2 separate regions of the Homo sapiens genome follow, and region 1 is linked to region 2. A link means that fine-mapping ties the variant in region 2 to the expression of a gene that starts in the linked region. Tissue or cell type: skeletal muscle. Region 2 holds a variant in brackets; the other region holds the start of a gene. All regions are shown on one strand. Distances are between the middles of the regions.

Region 1 (8,104 bases), 330 kb before region 2:
TGTAATGTCTTAAATACTAATGAATTAAGATTAGCCTTCCATCTGCCTGAAATGCTATTCTCCTAAAGATAGACATGACTAAATCCCAAGTTTTCTTCTGGTCTCTGTTTCATGGCCACATTCTTAGCCAGCCTTTCCTGGCTATCTTTTCTAAAATTTCATTATCTCCTTGAAAAACTTTACATTCTTCTTTTCTGATTAATTTCTTTCTGTTTAGTAGTTGTTATCTAACATAATTATTTATGTCTTTAACTTGTTTATTGTCTCTCTTCCCCATTAGAAGATTTATAAGAGCAGGATTTTTTGGCTCTCTCATCATTCTCATATCCCCAGCATAGAAAATGTTGCCTGGCACTTAGTAAGTGTTTAATTACTATTTCTGGAACACACCAAATAATGCTGATATATGGAAGGGTAGTGTTTCTTCACCGTGCTACCATTAAGAATGTGCTTTCTGTCAGTTCTCCTGCTCCTTGATTTTGACTAATAAAGCAATCTAAAGCAAATGGAGAGAGAATGAAGTGCTTTCTTTAGGTTGTTTCCCAGCCAACTCCGAGAGGTAGGCAGTGAAATGGGGAGGGTGGAGGGCCAGAGGTTGGCTAACTCTGCATTAGCTTTTATGGGTCAGCTATCTTGCTGGAAATACCTCATGTTCTCTGCTTTTCATGGCAAACACAGCTGGTAGGACCTAGAATTTACAGCATGCTTACTCAGTAAAGAAGCTTACCACGCCTTTGGTTTTCAGGGCGACACACCCCGCTCAGAAGAGGAATGAACACTCACTTAGATTTACCAAGCATGGCAACTAAATTCTCAGCTGTAAGTGTGACACTTTTTGGGATAGAAGTTCTGGAGCTGTGGAGGAGTTATCTCAGGGTGAATGCCACGTGGGGCAGTCTGTCTGTAGCTGGGTAATGCCCAAGGCAGGCACTGAATTGAGCAGTGATGATTCATGGAAATTCTGCCAGAGAAGGTACTCTGTGCTTTATTACAGGCTAAACTAGGAAGCCAACTCATTCTGGAAGGAATGTGTATAATGTTTTCAGATGAGGACTTGAAGTTTTATAGGTTGGAGTCACATTTGATTCAAACCATCTGTTTAATGGGAAGCTGAACCCAGCATTTTTTTTCATATGTCTCTCACAGTATTCAACAATTCAGTATGGGCTGGGCGCAGTGGCTCACGCCTATAATCCCAGCACTTAGGGAGGCCGAGGCAGGTGGATCACCTGAGGTCAGGAGTCTGAGACCAGCCTGGCCAACGTGGTGAAACCCCGTCTCTACTAAAAAAGCAAAAAAATAGCTGGGCATGGTGGCAGGCGCCTGTAATCCCAGCTACTCGGGAGGCTGAGGTAGGAGAATTGCCTGAACCCAGGAGTTGGAGGTTGCAATGAGCCGAGATCATGCTACTGCACTCCAGCCTGGGCAACAGAGCGAGACTTCGTCTCAAAAAACAAAACAAAACCAAAGAAAAAACAAAAACAATTCAGTTTCATAAGTATTTATTGAGGGCCCATGGAGTGCCAGGCACTGGGGTCACAGAAATGAATGAAACAGTCATCCCTGTTTTTGAGATGCTATGGTTCAGTGGAAGTAAAACTTACATGTTTATGTATGTTTTCCTTCCCATGATTGTGAGGTCAATGTCTGTATTTACAAGAATCTTGGTTGCCAGGGCTGAGCATTGTGTCAATCAATTTTTTGTAGATGAAGTGAATACATGAAAGAGCTCACAGTGATTTACTGAACATGGCTGCTGAAATGTATAACATTATTGTGCATTATTGCTACCGTGATATGCGGATTTATATTGCAATTGCCTCTGGATTCAGAAAAACACCCTTCACAGTGAGGTAGTGACCAAAACTGTGGCATTAGGAAACAATAAAAATGCTGGAATAGCTGACCAACACAGGGTATTTTGTTCCCCGGGGCTTAAAATCAGTTTTTAATATGATGAAAAGGCAGCTATTATGTGACATAGTAAGATATTGGTATGTTAAGCATGAACATATATTTCCAGTTTTCTCTGAGCTGGTCATGAAATGACACTGGCTACTTCGTCTTTTAATTGGGCAGATATTGTAGGAAGTACTTTGGGGATCACAGAGATGAACAAAAGGGCTCATCCAAAGAAAGCTTAAAACCTAGTAGTGCTGGAATTCTTAACTAGCCACATATGGTGATCTTGAACCTCTTGAAATAGTATAGATGTGTGTGTAGGTGCATTTTTCTGAAGAGAGCTTTCATCACATTGTCCAGTGGTTCATAGACCTAATTAACATCCCTCTACTACAGAAGTTCTTAATCTTGATCTTCCAAAAGATAAAGAACTTCTGTAGTAGAGGGCTATAATTATTTAAAGAACTACACCATATGGGAGTCATGAAGAGCCTCAGGGGTTTAAATGAGGAGCAAAACAGGTGGCAACACTGAGTAGTTTCATTATAAAATCCTTGACAATTTTGCAGGAGAAAATTTCTTTGCCTCTAGTGATAAAAACATTTTTCATATTTAACAGTAGTTATTTTTTCTATGAGTTACCTCTTCTTCTTCTTGTCCTATTTTTCTGTTTGTGTCTTAGGATTTTTTTCCTAATGAGTTAACTTCTTTGTATCCTGATGGCATTAACCTTTTCGATGTTATACTTTTGGTAGACCTTTCTCTAGTTTGATGAGTGCAAAATACTTCTGTGAATTTTTTACATGCATAATTTTATACTTTTTATGGTCAAGTCTTTATATCTTTTTTCTTTGTAATTTATAATATTTAAATTTGTTTGCTATCCAGAGATAAGATATTCATGTAAATATTCTTATGGTCTGTGATGCAGGTTTTTTCAGGCAGTTTATATGCTTTCAGGTGTCTTCTTTGGACCACGTGATGTATTTGTATTACGTATTTGTATTATGTATTTAATACAGAGAGGAAGAAATGAGGTGAAGCTCTGCTGTCATATTACTGGAATTGGTGTAGTGAGATCGTTAGCACAGTGGGGCCTGGAGAGTTTCTCTGGGTTTGAACATGGCTCTGACATTTTGTGTCCTTTTGACTTCATTTAACTTCTCTGTTCTTCAGTTTCCGTATCTAGAAAATACGTTTAATATAATAACCTTTGGGAGGCCGAGGTGGGCGGATCACGAGGTCAGGAGTTCGAGACCAGCTTGCCAACATGGTGAAACCCCATCTTTACTAAAAATACAAAAATTAGCCAGGCGCCTGTAATCCCAGCTATTTGGGAGGCTGAGGCAGGAGAATCGCTTGAATCCCGGAGGCGGAGGTTGCAGTGAGCCAAGATCGCTCCACTGCACTCCAGCCTGGGCGACAGAACAAGACTCTGTCTCGGGTATTGGTGGTGGGTCGGGGGGAATAACCTATCTTATGTGGTTATGATAATAAAATGAGTTGATATGTAAACCACTTAGAACAGGTCCTGATATAAAGTCAGTGCCAGCCACAGTTTAGTCCAGGCTGGGTAGATGCTTTGAAGCTTGATATTGTTTCAATGTACTTTGCATTTCTAAAAACGTGAACATTTCAAAGCATTCATTTGATCTCCTAAGGACTACCTATACCGGAGCCTCATTCCAGCACATTTGTAAGCGAGGCACGCCTCCTAGAGGCCACGAGTGAAGTTAATTTCCAGTTCTCGAAAATCTTACAGACAGCGGAGAACTGGTGTGGTGGCTCTGACGCCCCGCTTGTGAGTCTGCAGTCGGACATCTGGAAAGTAAGCGGCACGTCCGCGTGATTTCCAGTGCTTCATCTTCTTCCACCCTACCTTCCCTCCGAGGCTGGGTTCTTCTAATTCCTGTAGATTGCAGAGCGATTCCTGCGAATGTGCCTTCTTTCATTCATTCTAGTTCATTCCACAGATAATTCAGCTGCGCGCTTCCTCTGTGCGAGGCATTGCCGGAGAGCGGGGAGCGAATTGAACGTGGAACCTGCCAGTAGGGGCTTGCCGCCCAATACGAAATTCAAAATATGTATTGTATGTAGACGGGCAAACTAACGAGGATCTTGTAACTTGTTTTCTCATCTGCCAAATGGGGGTAATACGATCTTATAGGACCTTATAGGTCGCTGAAAGATTAAACGAGCGGAAAAAAAAGAGCCCCTAATAGTGAGCTAGGTGCAAAAAAGATCCTAATGCCTTTTTTCCTCATTCCTCCCCAGATTGAAAGTGATGAGTGCCAGCCCTGAGGGTTAAAGCGCCATATTTTCCTCAATATAGGGAATATTTGTTAGTGTCCCCAGACGAAGTTACATTGGTTCAATTTTCGGCGTGTGGGAGTTTTCGCCACTAGCATTCAGCACCCCAGTTTCAACCGTTAAAGCTACCGACTCCACATACAGGAAATGCATCTTAAAATTTGGAAAAAAAATCCCCAAAACACTGACATCCAAACACTTTAAAGCTGCCAAGGTGGACGGAACACCTTGAATTCCCAGACGCGCTCCACTGAGCATGCCCAGAGCCTCAGGCCAAACCCCCTCCTACCCGCCAAGGGGAGGTGGGGCAGGGCTGGCCTTCTGTGCTAGTCACTTCCTCTTCCGGTTTCATATGAACTCTCCCGCCACCCGGGAACAGTGGCTGCCACCGTTTGTGTTTTCCCGAGTTTGAATTCTTGCAGGTAGGGGAAACTTCCGCGAATTTAGGACAGAGAGCAATCCTGTTATTAAGGCTTGCAAGTCGAGAGAAAGGAGAGATGGATCACTTTGCAGGCAGCAGTAGCAGAAGGACAGACTTGGCGGGTTGGTTGTTTGGGGCAGACACCCAGGTACCAGGGAGGAGTTGGGGAGAGATAGGTTTGCCAGTGGAGTGAGGAGGGGTGTTGGGGATGGAACTTTTGTAAGGCACTTGTGGATGCTCCCGAAAAGGAGTTCCGAAAGACAGTTGCTCTGTTTCCCAGAGTCATAACAGAGGAAGTGAGTAACTGGACCCAGTCCATCAAGTAAGACCCTCATTTAGCCAGAACCTACAGCACTTTCCTCTAAGTTCAGGATTGCAGACCACGTAAAACCTTATGTTAACTCTTGGGATCGTAAAGATCCAAGAACAGTGACACACAGGCCTATAATGAGCAGGCAACATCACCTGACTTTCATGTTGCTGAAAATTAGGATCACCACCTGCATCTGCTCTAGCGCCTCTCCCACCCCCATTACAAAATTATTATAGGTGTATTGTAGAAAATCTGGAAACGAGAGAAGGACATCACCCAGGAATTGCCACTGCTAACATTTTGTGCATGCCCTCAAATCCATTTTTTTTCTGTGTTTGTGGAATTATTTTTTCGTGTTTTTTCTTTTTTTTCCCCCAACTTTGTTTTCCATCATTTTACGCTTTTTGTGTACTTCCTTCTAAGGTGACCAAGATGGAGTTTTCTGGAAGAAAGTGGAGGAAGCTGAGGTTGGCAGGTGACCAGAGGAATGCTTCCTACCCTCATTGCCTTCAGTTTTACTTGCAGCCACCTTCTGAAAACATATCTTTAATAGAATTTGAAAACTTGGCTATTGATAGAGTTAAATGTAAGTACTATTTAAATTAGAATGTATATATTCTTGAGAAGCTCACTTACCCTTTGTGAGAATGAATGAAGGTAATTCATTTCCTTCATTCAGCAATCCATTCAACAAGTATTTATTGAGGTAATTCATATCCTTCATTCAGCAATCCATTCAACAAATATTTGTTGAGGGTTTGGTACTCATTCATTTATTTATTGTACAATGCATATTATTGAGTGCCATTATGTTCTAGGTGGCAGGGATTTTGAGATGAATAATGTTATTTTTTGTTGAAGTTTTATTCTAGTACATGGAGACAGACATCCAAAATAATAGTCATAATTCAGTATTTTAACTGCTCTAGTAGAAGTAAATGGTAGTGCTGTTGAAACAAAGAAGTGGGAGTGACTGACTTAGTCTTATTAAATGAGCTTCTTAGAGAAGTTGAAATGTGATCTGGACATACTGAAGAATGAGTAGAAATTTTCCAGCAGAGAAGAAGTGAAGAGTTTTTCCAAGCTGAGATAATGGCCTATGCAAAGGCTTGGAGCATGAAAGAGAATTTCATATTTGAGCTAACAGTAACAAGTTCAGGAATTCAGGGTGGATGGAGAAGTATGGAGGGCATTTTGTGCCATGCTAATGATATGATATTGGGGTGTAAGAAGGATGTGGCCACCGTCCTGGGGGCCTACTTAATCCTCAGTGTGTTGCTAGAGAAAAGAATGGGCTAGACATGAATTGAAACAGAAACACTAGCGTTGTCTTCAGAGTTTATGTTCCAGGATATCCCTGTGGGGAAATCAGAAGGAAAGGTGAGATACTGTTAATCATTCTTAGAGGAGCAGGGTAAGCACTGCTAATACAGAGAGGAGGCACTCAGTGCCTGTGTGTTGAATGAAAGAATGAAGACAAGGGAGAAAAGGGTTTTAGAAAGCTTAGCAGTGTCAATACTTCATAGGGATTAAGATGGTGATTGAAAAGTGTCCCTTGGGTTTGGCACTTGAGGTGAAATGATAAGGGCCTGAACTATGATAATGACAATGGCAGTGGTAGGAAGGGAGAGAGTTAAGGGATACTGAGGAGTTAGCATTGATAGGATTTGGTGACTGGATATGAGGAGTGAGGGAGCAGGTGTGGAGTGGCTGCAGTTCCTGCTTGGATGATCTGATGCATGGAAACTCTGCTGCTGGAGATGGGCATGGCAGGACGAAGAGTAGGAATGAGGGGAGGATAATTAATTTGGATACCCATACCTGTGGGACATGGGGTTTATGTTCAGGAGACAATTAGAAGTTCTTCATTCTTGACTTCAAAAATGCCTCCAGAGAATAATTCATCTGAGGAAAGATTGATATGGTGCTTTAGGAACCTTTGAACAGTATGTAGCATCTGTTCAGGATGGTTCATTTGGCTGTTTGGATGGCCTTTCTTCTTCACTGTTGTGCTCTGTCCTCGGCTTCATCAGGAAAGGAAGGGATGCTTTTTTTCTGTTGAATCTATGCCAAGTAAATGATGCCTACTGCCTAACAGGCAGCTCCCATACGAAGGATGCAAACAAGGAGTGCCTAGTTTTTTTTTCCATACTGACATACTTTTCTGTTCCTCAGGAATGATTATTCACCATCCATCCCTCTTCCCTGATTGAGAATCCCTGGTATTAAATTATGCTGTGGGACATGGATATTTTCTGCACATAGATGGACATTATCCTCTTATAAGCATATGTAGTTTATATGATGTCGTTACAGGAAATAAACTGGCAATTACCTGTCATGTTCTGTAAACAAGTAATTATGGAATTGCCCTCCATAGATTTTGTCTTGGATTTAGTTTTAAAACATTATCTTGCATTTATACCTTTTTTCTTTTTTTTAGTGTTAAAATCAGTTGAAAATCTTGGAGTGAGCTATGTGAAAGGAACTGAACAATACCAGAGTAAGTTGGAGAGTGAGCTTCGGAAGCTCAAGTTTTCCTACAGAGTAAGTAAAAAAGGAAAAAAAAGTTCCTTCAGTTTCTATGCATTTATGTATTGAGTGTCACTTGTGGGAAAGATATTATATTAGGCACTGGGCTTTTATAAAGACTAATGTATCATTAGCCTGAAGGTTCTTCAGTGTATTAGGGGTGATTGACATGAAGTCAGATGATTATAATATGGCAGGGTTTCTCAACCTCAGGACTAACATCATTTTGGGTCTGATAATTCCTTGTTGCAGGGATTGTTCTGTGCACTGTAGGATGCTCAGTAGCATCTCTGGCTTCTACCCCTACATATTTCCAGACATGCCAAATGTATCCCGTGCAATACAGGATGATGACTGTGTTTATAGATGCATGCTCCAGGAACTCCAAAAACATACATAATTATGCAGCTCAGATTGGGGAGGTTTGGGAAGGCTTTCCAGAAGAGGTAGTAGTGGAGCTGCATGTTGACAGATGTGATTAGATTTTCATTTTGGGAAGATGACTGCCAGCAGCAGATTGACAGGGTCATGTCTGTTAGGAGGGAAACCAGTTAGAAGCCCGGAAATGATGAGAGTCTGAATTAAATGAGAGAAGGGGACCGGTTGAAGAGACATTAAGAAGGTAG
Region 2 (8,110 bases):
AGCATCAGCAATTTCCAGTTTGGATTCCTTAAAGTAGAAAAGGAACTTGATATATGCAAAGCAATAGGATCTTTCTCCCTCTCCTTCTGTGACTTTCACCTTTTTTTTAAGTGACTTGCTTTTCTTGACTCTTTAAAAACATTTTATTTAGATTTCATAGAACAATTTTTTTTAACATTCATTTTTATTTACTTTTCCCATGGCAACCCTATGACCTAACACTGTTATCTCCATTTCATAGATGGAGAAAATCAGACTTTAAAAAGATTACCCTATTTTGTGCACATTGAAGTCTAATAAATGTATTGCTAACTGACAACTTGAAGCGAGGTATAGAAAATGCCAAGATATTATTATAGCATAAGATACTAGGTTATTTTTGCATGAAATAGTACAACTATGTTTTTCTAATCTTTGTAGCCAAGTTTATCTCTAGAAATAAAATTTATAATGGAGATATCATTATCAGTATGATTTTGCATACAATCTCTTAAAACAGATTTCAGAGCAACTAATGATCTAGTCAGAAGGCCTGAATTTTAATTCAGACAAAACCAGTTACTAATTCTATGACCTTGAATAAACCATCTATTCTCCTTAGGCCTCTGTACATGGAGGAGATTGAATTTAATGGATTCCCCAAGGTCTTTCTAATCTCTGATTCTCTGTTTACAAACTATTTTACAAACTGTAAAGCCTTCTGATTAAAATGTATTAGACAATAAACATACTTTTTGTGAAACACATTGCAAAATGCAAAATTTATATTGGATTTCCCAGTTTTTAATGAATTGGGTGAAAATTGAATGTAATAAAAAAGTTCACAAATGATTCCATTGTTAATAAAAATTATAAAACATTTCAGAAACATTTTGAAATCAAGCAGCTAAGTTAAAAAAATGAAGCAAAGATAAAAATTTGTTCTTAATGATCTATAACTCTTAAAATCAGTCTGTATACTATCCATCTGTTACACACTGGAATTACTATAAAATTAGCCTAACATGTATTAACAACTAGCAAAAGAGAATCAGAGATTCCTAGGGTGCTTAGATAAGTATTACCAGAAAAGACTCATGTTTCTGTCTGCTGGTCCGTCCACCAGTAGGGTTCATTCTAGACCATGGCAGCAACCCCTTTTTCCCTGGCCAATTCATTTTAATCTACTAAAAGATTATACATAGCTTTAATCACACCACGTCTCTTTTTAAGGGTTTTTGGTGACTCTGTGTTGCCTAGAGAATTAGGTCTTGACCACTTACCCTGATTTTCAAGGCTCTCTCAGGCTGGCCCCTGCCTGTCTTTCCAACCTCATTCCTTATTGTTTCCTTGTATGTGCCTTTCATAGTAGGCTATGTGAACTATTTAATATTTGCTTTCCCAGGACATTCCCTCTTTACCTTGCTCATGTGGTCCTGCTGCAAATATTGCCTTTCCCCTCATCATCCCAGCTTTTCACCCTCTCCATCTTTCCAGACGCAACTCAAATAGCACTCCTCTTACAAAGCCTTCCTTGATCTCCTCAGCCGAAATTTCTCTCTACTGTGGAGTGTAATAGGCCTTTATCTGTGACCCTCATCAGTTCTCCATTCTTGGTAGAGGTTTTTAAGTATATGACTTACTGGGTTGGAAATTTGAGTTAGTCAAATGTATTCCTGTATGCTGAATAGTGAATAGTTTATAACACAGTCTTTTATATAGTAAGGCTTTAATTAAATATGCAAAATTATCACTGGTATACACTATTTCTGGGTTCACTTCACCAAATATTTATTAGATACCTACAGTGTGCAAGTCACTTCAGTACGAAGAGTGAGACGTAAAAGGATTAGTTAATACAAGACAGATGAACAAAAGAAATGGAATAACTTCTCAGTTTCCAAAAACTTGATAAATGAAAATACCACCCAAGAAACCAACAGTCACTCACTCAAGCAAAATGATATTTTTGTTGTCAACTCCAACTGCAGAAGGCGAGAAGGCAGGGATTTGAGACTGTGGAAAGTGAAACTGAATATAAGGAGAGATTACTAGAGTGCATAATTTGAAATGATACTCAAAATTAAAGTTTAATGATAGTATTTGAGAAAAAATAACATAAGTTATGAACCAGGCATGTTTGTATTCAGTCACAGTGAAATTTACAAGAAGAGATTTTCTGTAAAAAGACCAAGGAAAGGCCAAGATTAGAATGAAGAATTACATTGACTTAGGTTGCTTTTTCAGTTTATATCATACTAAATGAGTGCATATGCCAGACTTACAAGTCAGCTCTAAAACACAAGTGGTATCAGGGACCAGTATCAAAATGATCAAAAATGATTTTACGATCACTTAAAAACCCACAAATATTTACTGGCCTACAATGTGGTAGGCCTTTTGCTTGGAACTGGGGATACAATAATGAATCACACAGGTCCCTAACCTGTGCCTCACTAACATACAATGTCATTCACACACACACACACACACACACACACACACACACACACACACACACACATTTGTATTCCAAACATATTTTTATAGTTTTCTAATTTTTTGTTTTGACGTAATTGTCAACCAGAATTGGTAATGTTTTGGGTATTGCCAGAATTGAGGGCTTGGTGTAGATGGGAGGTGGCAGGTGGGAGTTGGGGGCTGGGGAGGTGAGAGAAAGGTGTCTAGTATGCCCCAAGGATGAATGGTGATACCAATCACTGAGAGCAAAGGATGGGGAGAGGGGAAAGGATACGTTTCCTGTTGGGTTTGAGCTGCCTTTGAGCCATCTTAGATGTTGAGTAGGTGTTGGATATGGGACTGAAACTAGATAGGGAACTGGAGCCAAACACAGAGGCTCAGACTAGAAATATAAATGTGGGAGCCATTTAGGTTTGGGTAGTGGTTGAAGCTCTCTTTGAATGAAATGGTGTAAGTAGCTGATTAAGTGTTAGAATGCAAACAGCTAGAATCCATGTTTCAGGTATTAAGTTTTAAACAAGTACTAAAACAGCTTTTGAAACTCATATATTTATAGCTTTGCCATGCATTAATGCAATATAAATTTCCTTCCTTTACAGGTGGATGATTGTGGCTTTTCTTTGAATCATCCTAATCAGTTCTTTTGTGAGAGCCAACGTATTCTAAATGGTGGTAAAGACATAAAGAAGGAACCTATCCAACCAGAAACTCCTCAACCCAAACCAAGTGTCCAGAAAACCAAGGATGCATCATCTGCTCTGGCCTCTTTAAATTCCTCTCTGGAAATGGATATGGAAGGACTAGAAGATTACTTTAGTGAAGATTCTTAGGCAGTTTTATAACCCTTTTTCCTCAATAGCCTGTTTCCTGTTTTTAAGATTTTGCCTTTGTTGTTGAAAAAGGGTTTCACTCTGTCACCAAGGCTTAGTGCAGTGACACAATTACAGCTGATTGCAGCCTTGACCTTCCCAGCTCAAGTGATCCTCCTACCTCAGCCTCCCAAGTAGTT[A/G]GGACCACAGGTGTGCACCTCATATCCAGATAATTTTTTTCAATTTTTTTTTGTAGAGGTGGGGGGTCTCCCTATGTTGCCCAGGCAGATCTCAGACTCCTGGGCTCAAGCGATCCTCACACCTCAGCGTCCCAGAGTGCTGGGATTACGGTTGTGAGCCACTGTGCCTGGCCTTTTTTTTTTTTTTAACCTTTTTGTTTAACTTCTCTCTTCACTGCATCCCAATCCATCTACAGGCATGCACACTTATTAGGAAAGGAGGTTTGAGGTAACAACAGAGACTTTCACTATATTTTGCTTTGACAGAAGGAAAGAGGAGGAGTTTCTATTAAAATCTGTCACTTGAGTGATGTCATTTAAGTCCTATTTTAGGAGATAAAAACAGCTTTGGGGACTGGTTAAAGTCCCCCAGAAACTACAATAAAGAACAACTTTTGTTTTAACTCTTAATCACTTTGTAATTTTGACTCAATCCTTTTCTGGACCATTTTTGTTAATAAATATCAAAGTGTACATGACAGTGTCTGCGTATAATTGGGAGAGTCTTATGTCGTAACAGATTGGACATTACTTCAGTTTTAAAATGGTAATTTGGAGTATCCAACACACTGCTGATCACTAATGAAGATTTTAAACTTTTCTTTACCTTTTTTTAAGAGTTGACCTATTTGTGGTTATTCTACATCAGGCACCTTTGAGTGGCACCAGACCCTCCTGAGTGAACTGTGACTTGGGAATTAACATAAAGTATAGCCAGTTATATTTATTAAGGAATAATAGGGATATTTTATTATGTAAAATAATGGCACGTCTTATCTGCTGCCATTACTCTGGGGACAGGTTCATGAAGAATAGACAATTACCAAGCAAGAAGGTTGTACATATAAAATAAAGTGTTTATTTTACCCTCCAACTTCCATACCTTATTACTTCTGTAGTTGCTGTGAATTACCAAATAGATTTGGTAAATTAAATTAATTTACTTGAGCAATGAATAGTGATACTTATAGTAACCCCCTCCTTTCAGTGCCAGCAATAGAATTTAATAAATGTTGTGGATGATTACAAACATACGAGATCAATGCCCTGTTCTCTCTGCCTGCTTTTGTCAAGGGAGTAAGGTGAAGTTGATGATCCCTGGCACGTATGCCTTGTGGAGCAGTGCCATTGTGGATACCCTCATCTAAATAGTGATTTCCTCCTGGGGCTCTACTCACTCACCAATAGGATTTGGGGTGCTCAGGAAACCCTGTTTGAAACATAGTTCTTCCTCATCTATTACCTTGGAATATGTGAAAAGTATTCGTCTATTTCTGTCTTCTTTTCCTGGTAAAGAGGGATACTTTTATCCTTTTGAATCAGATAGTAACTAAATTGAAAAGAGCACATTGTATTCAGAAAACTAGACTGTTAGCAGCACCATATTTTTAATCATGTGATAAACTGCATCATGATGAAAAGGATTAAACAGGATCAGATCATCAGAAACTAAAAATGTCAACTAATTGAGTTTTCATTTTAGGCTTCTGAGTCAAAGATTTCTTGGAATATTTAGCAACATATAATTAAATGAGATACTATCTATCTAAACTTTTACTTGTCTTGGTGAATTATTATTACCTAGTTCAGAAAATAGTATTATTCCACTACAAATTACCCCTATAAATCTCTGCCTTCTGAAACCATCTGCTACTCCCTTCATCATTTGTCGTTCTCAACAGGAATCTGATGATTGCCTACCACTTTATCCATGGACTGCAAAACCACAAGTCCTTCTTTAAAAAAAAAAAAAAAGAACAAGTGCTACCTGGAGCTGTTTTAACCACAGAATTAAGTTAGCTTTAGAAAGCCGAGCATAGAAATGTAGGTCTTCGCTGTGTTAAAAGAAGGGAGATATTAGAAGCACTCTCGCCACTGTAGTTCAATGAGAAATTTTCTGATAGAATGTTTTGTATCTGGCAGCATTTTGCAAGGCTGTCTTTTTCTACTGCTTCATGTTCTCCTTCTTTTATGAAGCCTGTGCTCCCACCAGCTAAAAGGACAGAGTCCTTAACGGCATGGTAGATGCAGCTTACTGGACTGTTTATTTTATACTGGCAGCCCCAGGAATTTGTGTCATCTCACTTGAATGTTTTATATGTGTCTAGTTGAACTCCAAAATAACACTAGTTTAAATATTAGTTGTATTACAGGTTCAATTCAATTTATTCATAATAAGGTTTGATCTCCTGTATTATACAGAAGAATATATAAACATTCTGTGAAATCTATAGATTAGAGGATAGGGGATAGAGGTTTATAAAAGATCAAAATTAATGCTTTTCTGGTGCTTTTTGGAGTTGGAAAAAGCAATTTATTTTTCATGCTTCACAGGTCTTGACAATTTTGATTTGTTTTCTTTGAGAGCAGACCTGTTTGAATTGGGCGATGTAAAGAACCCAAAAGAAAAAATCAAAAGCCAACAGCCTCTTTTCAAAACCGTAGCCAGTGAAAAAGAAAAGAATATGAGTCTTCCAGATCTTTTAACTGTTAGTCTTTTATTATCTCTTCAAGGAAGAGAGGCTGTATGATTGTATCAAAGACAAAAGAAGAAACAGCAAAAGAAAGAAACTAGGTTGGAAATTTGTAGCTGGTTGAAGCAATGACATTGTTAGGAGAAATTCTGTCACATTTCTTTCAAGTTGTTTTTCCATAATGTTTTTCACTCTGTCCATACAGTACAAAACTTAATTGCCATGTGCATGAAAGAACACTAGGAAGGTTTTAAGTAAACTTTTTAGGACTGCTTATAATATTATAGAGTCATAAAAGTAAATAGTTATAGATTTCGAATGAGCTGGGAATGGAATAAAGCAATGGGAAAGATCTTTAATTCACATAGAATTTTAATAAGCTAAGGGATTTCTTCTGTCTCTAAAAGCATGCAGGGTGTTTTGCTTGTTACACTTTGCTGTCTTATTGATACTCAGGGTCTTTGCAAGCAAACTTTGTAATTCTTTACAAAGAAGAGAAGAAAACTTCTGGGATTTAAGCTTGAAGGGTGAAATGAGACAACTCTAAAGTTCTGTTTCAGTTAGAGTCTACTCTGCAAATTTAATCAAGGTCTTCCGCAGGCATCAGCTTGACATTAAATTTAAGTGCCCCTTAAAGTGAGAGTTTGACAGCAGTTCTGAATGTGAAGCTCAGTCTGAGGACATCTTTACAGCTGGAAGGGGAAAAAAAAAAACGTTGAGAAGCCTCAAACCACTGTGGTAATTAGATCCATTTGTTAACTTCTTTTTTAATGTTGGCAAAGGGAGGGAGAGAAAAGGTTGACAGAGGCTGGAATCAGGAAGGCAGTCCAGAGCTCCCTGTAGAAATCGGGTAAGCAGAGTCCTGTATTGCAGAGAATACTGGCAGATATTCCCTCTGACAAATGAGTGAGATGGGGAATTTATTTTATGAACTTCATTCAGTTTGTCTTCCTTTCAATACACAGAGCCATGGTGTGTGGAAGCTGCGTTTTGGATAGGTGTGCTGGTTTGGTTGTAAGGCCCTTTGGAAGACACAGAGCGTTATTTGGGAGTGGACCTCTGGTGGTACGTTGTTGGCCTGAAGAGTTAATGTTTCTCACAAGGGTATCTAACTTATATTCAGGTAATCACTTATTTACCCAAAGCATCTGGTCTTTTCAGTATTGAATTCCTTTTTCACAGGTCGCGATTGCCCTAGTCTAAGGCTTCTCACCATAATTGGCATTGTAGGCAATTAGCTTCATGGAAATCATGTCACCAGTAGGAAATTATCTTCCTACTTCACTGACCTGCCTGCCAAAAATGATACTAGTTCTTGTTATTGGTTTGCTTTCTATCCTGTAAGCTCTTTTTGTTCATTGCTTCATGACATTTTACTTTTTCCAGAATTATCACTGTAGAACCTTATCAAAGGCTAAAGAATATGTCTTTGTATAAAGCTCCTGCATTTCCCTTGAGCTTTCCATTGCAGTACTGTTCTTGAACATTGATGACAAGGTAGTGAAACAACACTGCTAATAAATATATAATGGGTTTTTCAATCTAACCTTGCATTTCTAGGTATTCATTCACCACACTGAAACTATGAGGCTTTTTAAGGTTTTGTTTAGTTTTGCACTGAAAGCACAGGGAAAAGTAAATTCAACAAATACTGCATTTAATTAATACTGACCATCTTGCGAACATTTCCCCGATTACTCCCACACATTTTTTTAGAGATCTTACCTTCTATTTGAGTCATGGGATACCAAGGTTTTCATTACTGATTAAAAATGACATAGTGATACATACTTCTCTTTTCCCTTTCATTGGCAAGAATTAAACTGTGATTTAAACAATGCTCTATCACCCTTAACTCTTGGTTGTCCATAGAGTTCCTGCCTGGTTCTCTTCTTACTTCATGAGTCTCCTGGAGTGAACTCATTCACCCCTATGGTATTTTTTTCTATCCATATGCAAATAATCCCCAAATGTGTATCTCCAGCTGAGAATTCTCTGAGCACAGATCCATCTATACAGCTATCTCTTGGATCTCTTTTTAGGATATCCCACAAGTATCTCAAATTTAATTTGTTCAAAAATCAAACCTGTTCTCTCATCTATTTCTCACCTATTTTGTCAATACAGA

Evidence for each region. PIP is the estimated chance that this variant, and not a neighbour inherited with it, causes the effect.
Region 1: PRIM2 starts here. The variant in region 2 is fine-mapped to the expression of PRIM2 in skeletal muscle (GTEx, PIP 0.95).

The regions. Positions count from the first base shown.
Region 1 is chr6:57,313,068-57,321,171 of GRCh38, forward strand. It overlaps PRIM2 (DNA primase subunit 2), which reads left to right and starts at 4,563. Exons shown (of 14, transcript NM_000947.5): 1 at 4,563-4,634; 2 at 5,370-5,532; 3 at 7,390-7,493. The coding sequence starts at 5,379. RefSeq lists a silencer at 3,648-3,697.
Region 2 is chr6:57,642,869-57,650,978 of GRCh38, forward strand. PRIM2 (DNA primase subunit 2) reads left to right here. Exons shown (of 14, transcript NM_000947.5): 14 at 3,060-3,982. The coding sequence ends at 3,290. Among named protein-coding and RNA genes, the nearest start is that of TRI-AAT1-1, 150 kb to the right of the region's middle. The variant A/G (reference allele first, on the strand shown) is at 3,470.